Regions from separate parts of the Homo sapiens genome. Here region 2 is linked to region 1. Evidence: fine-mapped expression QTL. A gene starts in region 1. The other region holds a variant in brackets. All regions are shown on one strand. Distances are between the middles of the regions.

Region 1 (5,000 bases):
GTGCAGGTCTCAGATAACTTTAAAAATTGTGCTATTGGAATGGAGGAAAAAAAAACAAACTTCTAGGACTCTCATGGAGAGCTAATGTGTTAAACATTGCTAAACCTTTTGTTTTCAGAGTCGAGAGAACTTATTTCTTTAGAGCTATTTGCAGCTTCTAACAAGTGAGTAAAATATACTCCTGTGAACAAAATTTAGAGCATATTTGTTCCTCTCTACCTGATTTCTCCAGAATTTGGAAACTATTTGTGAATATTCTCAATTTATGGCAGTATAGTTAATTGCATAAGTGCAGTAAGAATCTGTTTTCTTTTGTAACAGAACACAATTGGAGAAATTGGTTATTTTACCAAGGCTTTGACTGGAATGGCATGCTTCCTTTAAAGAATCAAAGTTCACTTATAGAGCCAATTAAAGCCCATTGGGGAATCTGGCCTCATACCTTGTCCACACAGAGTGTCTGTGCAAGGTTCCTGACCTGTGGTAAGTAAAGAATGTCACTTTTTAACAGGCCCAGGAACTCCAAGTTATCTTGGGACTTCAAGAGGAAAGGAATTTTCAAATACCAACTCATAGGTATTTGAGGCTGGGCTCAGCTTTTTTTTTTTTTTTTTGAGACAGAGTCTAGTTCTGTCGCCAGGCTGGAGTTCGGTGGCTCAGTCTCGGCTCACTGCAACCTCCGCCTCCCAGGTTCAAACAATTCTCCTGCCTCAGCCTCCTGAGTAGCTGGGATTACAGGCATGCATCACCATGCCCAGCTAATTTTTGTATTTTTAGTAAAGATGGGGTTTCACCTTGTTGGCCAGGACAGGCTTGATCTCCTGACCTTGTGATCCACCCACTTCAGTCTCCCAGAGTGCTGGGATTACAGGCATGAGCCACCGCGCCCAGCCTGGGCTTGGCTTTTAAAAAGTCTTAGCTGAGATCCTTCATGGAACAGAGTTCTATCAGAGCCAATGAAAAAAGCCTAAGTGAAAAATAATTATTCTTGCTGCACTTTATGCAAATAATCAGGCCAAGTACAGTAAGACTAAAGTTTATTTTGTAAACAAATCGGTTCTATCATGGTTTGTTTTGAATAAAAATGGGGACTGGAGAGAGAAAAATTATGCTTCAAAAGAAAAACTATAGTATACAGTTGTTAGCTGGTCTTGAGGTTTTCTTGTGCAGTTTAGACTACACACTAAATTATTTGTGGGTTAGAAGTCCCCAGACTAATGCTTTCAAATCTTTACTTTTAAAATTGGGAATTGTACTCCTCAAACTAGGACTCATTATTTACCTTATAGCAGGCTGTTCACTTAAACACTGTAGTAAAACTATAGATGAGAGTACTAATGTGTTTGCCATGCAACTCTTGGAAACTCAACCAGGCCTGCATGAGTTGCTCAGACAGTTGCAAAGCAATTCCACTCTTCTCACCTTGGGGTTCACTCCCATTCCCATTACCTCCCCTGTCAGCAGGAAGAAGCCAGAGCTATCAACGGCCTTCTCCCATCTTCATAGCCTACCCAAAGGGAAGGATTGAAACCATCTTTGCAAAATTATGATTGAGACAGTGAAAGAGATCTAACTGAACGGATTGCATCTTGCTTCTAACCTCAAAGCTGTCCTTGTTCATTCCTGGGCATAAGCTGAACTAACTTTGGGAGAAACTTAGTTTATAGTTTACACAAAGACGGTAACAACCCTTTCCCAAAGCAGACCTCCTTCTTGCCTGGAGACTAGATTGCCTTTGTAGGACTAACATTAACCACAAGATTTGAAATCAGGTTTAGGAGTCATGCAGCTGGAGGATACAAGATTCTGACTTGCCCTAAACCGCTCCTAAGATCGGTGCTCGAGAGATTTTACAGACCCTGCACTTGATGGATCAGCTGGCACCACCCAGATCAGTAAACTGGCTCATCTGATCTTGTGGCCCCACCCAGGAAGTGACTCAGCACAGGAAGACAGCTTCTACTCCCTATGATTTCACCCCTGACCAATCAGCACTCCTGGCTCACTGGCTTCCGCCAACCCACCAAGTTATCCTTAAAAACTGTGCTCCCCAATTGCTTGGGGAGACTGATTTGAGTAATAATAAAACTCCAGTCTCCTGCAATAAATAAATAAATTAATTAAATAAAAATCATTTATGCTGTGCCTGGCCAGGTCTGGTGGCTCACGCCTGTAATCCCAGCACTTTGGGAGGCTGAGGCGGGTGGATCACTTGAGGTCAGGAGTTGGAGACCAGCCTGGGCAAGATGGTGAAACCCCGTCTCTACTCAAAATACAAAAATTAGCAGGGCCTTGTGGCGCACGCCTGTAATCCCAGCTACTCTGGAGGCTGAAGCAGGAGAATCGCTTGAACGCCGGAGGCGGAGGTTGCAGTGAGCCGAGCCAGATCGCGCCACTGCACTCCAGCCTGGGGGACAGAGTGTGACTCTCTCAAAAACAAACAACAACAAAAATCACTTATGGCGTGCCTGCTCCCTGGAAAGCACTGCCAGATATGTATTTGCTATTGCAGTGTCTATACGCAGTCACATGAAGATTTGGGCTAAAAGACACACTACCTTAAAAGTTTCACATTCTTTCTGGCAAATTGGATTTTTCTTTTTCTTTCCTTCCTCCTTCCTTCCTTCTTTTTTTCTTTTAATTGGCAACTCAGATTTTTCGAAGTGTTTTTGCTATCTCACTGCTGGAAAGCCTGGTTCTGCCTTTCCTAAAATCTCGTGTGCAGGTTCGCACTCCGGCTACTTTCAGGCCTCTAGGGAGCCCAGGTAGCGGCGCGCACGCGCACGCGCACACTTCTCCCTCGCTGGTCTTCAGGCCCGGCCCGCCCTGTCCAGAGGCGCCGGGACCCAGGCGCCTGCAGCCGCCCGCCGGGCCGACGTCCCACGGGAATGCGCGAGGCCTGGACGGGAGTGGCCGAGGCGGTTGGGCGGAGGCGGAGCAGGCGCCATGTCAGCCCGGGAAGTGGCCGTGCTGCTGCTGTGGCTGAGCTGCTATGGCTCCGCCCTTTGGAGGTAGAGAGACGCCAGTCGCAGGCGAGCGACTAGGCGGGGATTACCCCCGGCGGGGCAGGCGGGAGGGTCCTGCTCTCCACCCCATGCGCCTCGGGACCGCTCGCCCTGGCCGACCACTGCCTCGTCTCCTGGCTCCCCAACACCAGCCCCAGTGTCCCACCGCTCCCACCCGAGAGTTTTCCATGAGCGAGAGGGGACGCAGTTAGCACTTTGCTACCCTGCTCCAGCTCCTGCAGTAAGGTCGCAGTACCTTCATGCTGCTGTCCTCAGAACATCTGAGCCCCAATGAAATCTTACTTTTTTGTTTGTTTAGGGCGGGGGTTGTCTGTTTGTTTTAGAGACGGCCTCTTGCTCCGTTGCCCAGGCTGCAATGCAGTGGCGCCATCATAGCTCCCTGAAGCCTGAAACTCCTGGGCCCAAGCGCTCCTCGCACCTCGGCCTCCTAAATAGCTGTGACAACAGGCACGCGCCACCACGCTTGGCTAAATTAAAAAAAAAAATTGGTAGAGACAGGGTCTCACAATATTGCCCAGGCTGGTCTCGAACTCCTGGCCTTAAGTGATCCTCCTGCCGGGGCCTCCCAAAGTGCTGTAATTACAGACTATGAGCTCTGAGCCATGAGCTATCGCGCCCCGGCCCCTGTGAATTCTTACATTCCTCTCACCTTGTGCAGCCTTCTTTTGCCAGAGGAGAGGATCGTTGTGGTCCAAGAGTGAGATATAACAGTGCCCTTTTCATTAAAAAATAGCACATGTCCATCTGCACACCCCACACACCTATGGGCCTCTTAGATCTGTTTCCAACAAGAATACATTAAATATAAGACATAATTAATAAAGCAAGGATGAAAAGGTATTATCGTTGTTATCTGGGACTAAATTAATAAATTAAACGTGACTCTTTGAGCTACTGTTCTCTCCCTAGCCTATCCTTAGCCCCAGTAGGAGTGAGAAGCTGTTGAGGGAGCAGGTGAGGAGAAAAGGCCTGCCAGGAAAGGTCATTTCATCCTTTCACTACCAGATCTTATTAAATTACATAATTTAACTTTGTAAATTAAAGTACAAAATTTGCCACTTGTATTTTTCTCTCTGTATTGAAAGGGATCTTAGATTCATAAGAAGTGTGAGGTGGTTCACACTTCAAAAAAAGCCTTTGATGACAATAGATTTCATTTTTATTTATAGGTATATGTAAAATACATGACTTTTTTTTAATTCGATCTGTATATACAGAAAATGTGTTTCATTATAAAGGTGACTGATTTCCGTTAAACATAAGAATTCAGAGTGCTATTAAGGCTTGTATAATTCTGATAAGGGAATTGCATAATGATATCCTAGCAACTCTTCCTCTACATACAGAAAAAAGGCCTCTGATTTAAAGCTTTAGGGATGGAGCAATTCCAGTTGCAATTAGGTATGCAATGTAGACATGGAATAGATTCTTGAAGCAAATGGAAGGCGAAGGAATTGTAGGGTGGTGATTTATGATAGTCACCAGCTACATGTGCCTTTTGAGTATTTGAAATATAGCCCAAATTGAGATGTGGTGTAAGTGTAATGTACACACCAGATTTCAAAGACTTAGTCTGAAAAAAGAATGTAAGATATCTCAGTAATAATTATTTTATACTGATTACATGTTGAATAAAACTTAAAATTAATTAATTTTAAGTTTAATTTGTTTAGTTTTAATTAAAAGCTAAAAATTATTAAAATTAATTTCACCCATTTCTTCTTGTGCTTTTAAAGTAGCTACTTGAACATTTTTAATTAATAGGAGGTGGCTTGTATTATATTGGACAGTGCTCTGTTAGATGAATCAGATAGACGGGAATTAAGAACCCTCCATCGCAGCAACATGGCAAAACCCTGTCTTTACTAAAAAATACAAAAATTAGCTGGGCGTGGTGGCATGCGCCTGTAGTCCCAGCTATTCGGGAGGCTGAGGCGAGAGGATCACTTGAGCCTGGGAGGTCAAGGCTGCAGT
Region 2 (5,000 bases), 97 kb after region 1:
GCAATCAGTAAAGAGAAAGAAATAAAAGGCATTTAAATTGGAAAAGAGGAATTCAAACTGTCCCTTTTTGCAGATAATATGATCTTATATTTAGAAAAACCTAAAGACTCCACAAAAAATTTCTTGGAAATGATAAATTCAGTAAAGTTGAAGGATATAAAATCAGCATACAAAAATCAGCAGCATTTCTATACACTAATAATGAAATAGCTGGAAAATAAATCAAGAAAGCACTCCTATTTACAATACCTACCAAAAAAACTGGGAATAAATTTAACAAAGGATGTGAAAGATCTCTGCAAGGAAGACTACAAAACACTGATAAGGCTGAGTAGAATAGTTCACACCTGTAATCTCAGCAGTTTGGGAGGCCAAGGCAGGAGGATTGCTAAAAGCCAGGAGTTTGAGACCAGCCTGGGCAACAAAGCAAAATCCTGTTCTCTACAAATAAAAAATTTAAAAAGTTAATCTGGTGAGGTGGCCTACACCTGTAGTCCCAGCTACTTGGAATGCTGAAGTGGGAAGGTTGCTTGAGCCCAGGAGTTCAAGGCTGCAGTGAGCTGTGATCACACCATTACACTCTAGCTTGGGTGACAGAATGAGACACTTTCTCTAAAGAATATATATATATAAATTTAAGTGGATGTATTGTAACCCTGATAGCAACCACTAAAAAAATTTATACAAGATAGAGTAAAAAATTCAATGAACTAAAATGAAATATGAAAAAAATTATAAAATCCAAAAGAAGGCAGAAAAGGGAAATAGAGGAACAAAACCCTGAGGATACAATAGAAAATAAAATGTATAACTCAGTCTAAACACAACAATAATTACATTAAATCTAAATGGTCTAAAACCACTAATTAAAAGGCAGAGATTGTCAGATTGGATTTTTTTTTAAAAGACCAAATTATACATTTTTATTTAGAAGCCCACTTTAAATATAAGGAGATAGGTGGACTAAAAGTAAAACACTGGAAGAAGTTATAACATGCAACATGAAATTTGGGAGGGGAAACAGATCCAGACCATATCGACCAATGTCAAGGTGGTTTATTGTGTTTTCTTCTAGGAATTTGAGAGTTTCAGATATTACATTAAGTTTTTAATCCATTTTGAGTTAATTTTAATAACTAGTACAATTTCAATTTTTATACCTTCTTTTTTCCTTTTCTTTCTCTTTTTTTCCCCAAACTGTTAGAACTAACAAATAAATTTAGTAAAGCTGCAGGTTACAAAATCAACATAAAAAAATTAGTTGCATTTCTATACACTAACAACAAGCTATACAAAAGAGAAAGTAAGAAAGCAATTTTATTAATTACAGCATAAAAGAATTTTTTTTTTACATGTGGATATCCTGTTTTTCTCCACACCACTTATTGAAGAGACTCTTCTATCTGGATTGTGTTCTTTGCATTATTAAGAAAGATTAGTTGGCTATATATGCATGGGTTTACTTCTGGATTCTCTATTCTGTTCTGTTGGCCTATGTGTCTATTTTTCAGCAAGTACTACACTGTTTTGATTGCTATAGCTTTGTAATGTAGTTTGAAATGAGGAACTATGATGCTTTAAACTTTGTTCTTCTTCGAGATTGCTTTGGCTCCTCAGGGTCTTTCATGGTTCCATATGAATTTTAGGATTGTTTTTTCTATTTCTGTGAAAAATGCCCTTGGAATTTTGATAGAGATTACATTGACTCTGTTAATCAGAGTCTATAGAAGGTGGTATTATTATGGACATTTTAACAATAGTAATTATTCCAATTTAAGAATATGAGATATCTTTCCATTTATATGTGTTTCTTCAGTTTCCTTCATTAATATCTTATAGTTTCCAGTGTACAGATTTTTTACCTTCTTGGTCAAATTTATTCCTAAGTATTTTATTCTTTTATATATTTATTTATATATATGTATATATAATTTTATTTGAAATATTCATATATATATATATATATATATATATATATATATATATATATATATATATAAAATCTCCCAGGTTCTTGGAAAATTTCTTTCTGGTTTTCAGCAGTTTTACTATGTGCCTAGATGTTATTTCCTTTGTATTTATCCTACTTGAGGTTCAATTGAGTTTCTTGGATTTCTGGGTTTATGTCTTTCATTAATCTTGGAATGTCAATGGCTATTTTCTCTTCAGATGTTTCTTCAACCTCATTTTCTTTTTCCTTTCCTACTAGGATTCCAAAAACACCTGTATGAGACCATTTAATATTGTCTCATAGATCTCAGATGACCTGCTCGTTATTTTTTCACTGTTTTTTCCTTTGTATTTCAGCTTGTATACACTTGTATGTTCACTGCTTTTTTCCTCTGCTTTTTCCAGCTTCTTGGTAAGTGCATCTGAGTTTTTTTCAGACAGGGTCTCACTCTGCCACCCAGGCTGGAGTGCAATGCCACAATCAAAACTCACTGCTGCCTCAAACTGCTGGCCTCAAGCAATTCTCGCACCTTGGCTTCCCAAAGTGCTGAGATTACAGGCATGAGCCACCATGCCCAGGCCCAATTATTTCTCTCTCTCTCT[C/CT]TTTTTTTTTTTTTTTTTTTGAGACGGAGTTTTACTCTTGTTGCCCAGGCTGGAAGTGCAGTGGCGCAATCTCAGCTCACTGCAACCTCCGCCTCCCAGATTCAAGTTGATTCTCCTGCCTCAGCCTCACGTGTAGCTGGGACTACAGGCACGTGCCACCATGCCCAGCTAATGGCTAATTTTTGTATTTTTAGTAGAGATGGGGTTTTGCCATGTTGGCCAGGCTGGTCTCAAACTCCTCCAATTATTTCTTTATTCTTGATTTTTGTTTTATTTCTAGCATTTCCATTTTGTTCCTTTTTTATCATTTCTATATCTTGGCTGAAATTCCTCATCTCTTCACTATGTTGCCCATCTTTTCCACTGAAACCTTCAGCATTTTTATTATAGTTATTTTCTCTTTAGACATTCTGGGCACCTTATCACTGACAACATTCCAGAGACCTCTTAGTACTTCACAGTGGTGCCACCAACCTTCGAAATCCTTGGGAGAGCTATCTCTGCTTTACAACTTAGCTTCCAGCTTTTTGGTCATTGGGTAATTAACTTTACTTTCTCATCTGACTCTGAATTTTGGTGTATCTTCCTCTCTTCCTCCCCTTCTCCTCCTGCCCACTCTGCACTCCCCTCTCCTTCTCCTTCTCCTTCTCCCTCTCCTTCTGTCTCCTATTTCTCTGTCCCAATTCTGTCAGGGAAGCTGCTTTACACTCTGGGTAGAGGCCACACATGGCTCAAGGAGAGTTCCTCTCCACTCCCTTACCCCACTCCTAGTCACAGAGCTGAGAATCCAGAGTGTGGATGGGTTTCTCTCAACTTGTCCAGCTTGATGCCCCTTTCCTGCCTTCAAAGACTTACTACCTTACATTTTGAAGAGACCTTGAATGCTTCAAAAGGATCTCTCACCTCACCTGCACGATTATGCCGAAGCATTAAGTGGAGTTACGTGGGAAAGGGTTTGTGAGTGAGAGTGAAAACTCACTTCTTGGCTGGGAATCCTTGGAATTCTTATCTATCGTGTTTATGACGTGTTCCTCTTCCCATCTCTCTGACAAGAATGAGAATGGCTGTGGGTTTCTTCTATAGCTCACCATTTTGTTTCTAATCTATTTCTTCTTTAAGAATTGTTTCCAGCAACATAAGTTCTATACTTTAACGTGAATCCACATTTAGCAAAATGACCTTTTATCCCAAATTGTGTCTTTCTTTGGTTACCAGTTTGATATCTGCCGACCTCCTGTTTCAGTATACACTAAATATTTGTACATTAAGTAAAATGAGGACAACAAGATGTTTTCAAAAGATTCCTTTTGATTGTCATGTACATAGAAATTACATTTCAAGTAAAAATCCCAAAAAATTAGAAACAGTGGGGAGAGGAGGCAGAGGAGAAGGGAGGCCTTGGACTCCTTGATGAAATTAGGCCCACCAAGTTTCAGGCACAGCAGTTTCTGAATACTAGCAGCCTATATCCATGAAAGGGTAGAATTCATTTGTCTAAGGCTTTAAGTTTCTCTTCTCTTTATCTGATAACCAAGGAATCTAGAATTCCAAAAATGAGTTAATATTTGAAGAGACTTTATATATTGACCTTAGTAAACATCAAGGTGAAAGGCACACTCCAGGCCAGAGTGATAAATACACAAAGAGAAGGCTGATGTGCTTAAAAGATTTAAAAGGAATTAAAATTTATTAGTCCTACCGATAGAAACAATTTATAAACAAATAATTGGGATAATTTATTTTTATGGTTATATGTAATATGACCAATTTCTATTTAATATATTTCTATGCCTGAAGTATTATTCAAAAATATATTGAAACAAATCAAACCTTAGTATTTACTACCTTTAATTTTTATTTATTTATTTATTTAGAGACAGGGTCTTGCTCTGTCACCCAGGCTGGAGTGCAGTGGCATGATCATGGCTCACTGCATCCTTGAACTCCTGGGCTCAAGTGATCCTTCCACCTCAGCCTCCCAAATAGCTGAGACTACAGACACACGCCACCACCCCCAACTAGTTTTTAACTTTTGTAGAAATGGGGTCTCATTTTGTTGCCCAGGCTGGTCTCAAACCTCTGACTTCAAGTGATTCTCCTGCCTCAGCCTCCCAAAGTGCAGGGATTATAGGCATGAAACCACCACACCTGGTCTCTGTATTTTAAATGTAGCAAATTAGAAGATGGAAGTTGTTAGACCTTGGTAGCTAAGGTATGAGGACACAAAGGCGTAAGAATGATACAATGGACTTTGGAGACTTGGGCGGGGGTGGGGGGGCAGGATGGGAGTGGGGTGAGGGATAAAAGACTATACATTGGGTACAGTGTACACTGCTCAGGTGATGGGTGCACCAGAATCTCAGAAACCACCACTGAAGAACTTATTCATATAACACCACCTGTTCCCCAAAAACCTATTGAAAGAAAATTTAAAAAAATAAAAAATA

Direction of the effects. Alleles are on the strand shown, and positions count from the first base shown. SD is a standard deviation of normalised expression in the study named.
In carriers of allele CT in region 2, the expression in skin of the gene that starts at base 2,790 in region 1 tends to be lower than with C alone (moderate effect, 0.64 SD a copy in TwinsUK).

The links. PIP is the estimated chance that this variant, and not a neighbour inherited with it, causes the effect.
Region 2: its variant is the best candidate, but not a certain one, in a credible set for the expression of CATSPERE in skin (TwinsUK, PIP 0.69).

Annotation. Positions count from the first base shown.
Region 1 is chr1:244,458,484-244,463,483 of GRCh38, forward strand. CATSPERE (catsper channel auxiliary subunit epsilon) reads left to right here and starts at 2,790. Exons shown (of 22, transcript NM_001130957.2): 1 at 2,790-3,011. The coding sequence starts at 2,947. RefSeq lists an enhancer at 1,217-2,416 and a silencer at 2,691-3,040.
Region 2 is chr1:244,555,585-244,560,584 of GRCh38, forward strand. The region is part of intron 9 of CATSPERE (catsper channel auxiliary subunit epsilon); the gene reads left to right. Among named protein-coding and RNA genes, the nearest start is that of DESI2, 95 kb to the right of the region's middle. The variant C/CT (reference allele first, on the strand shown) is at 2,554.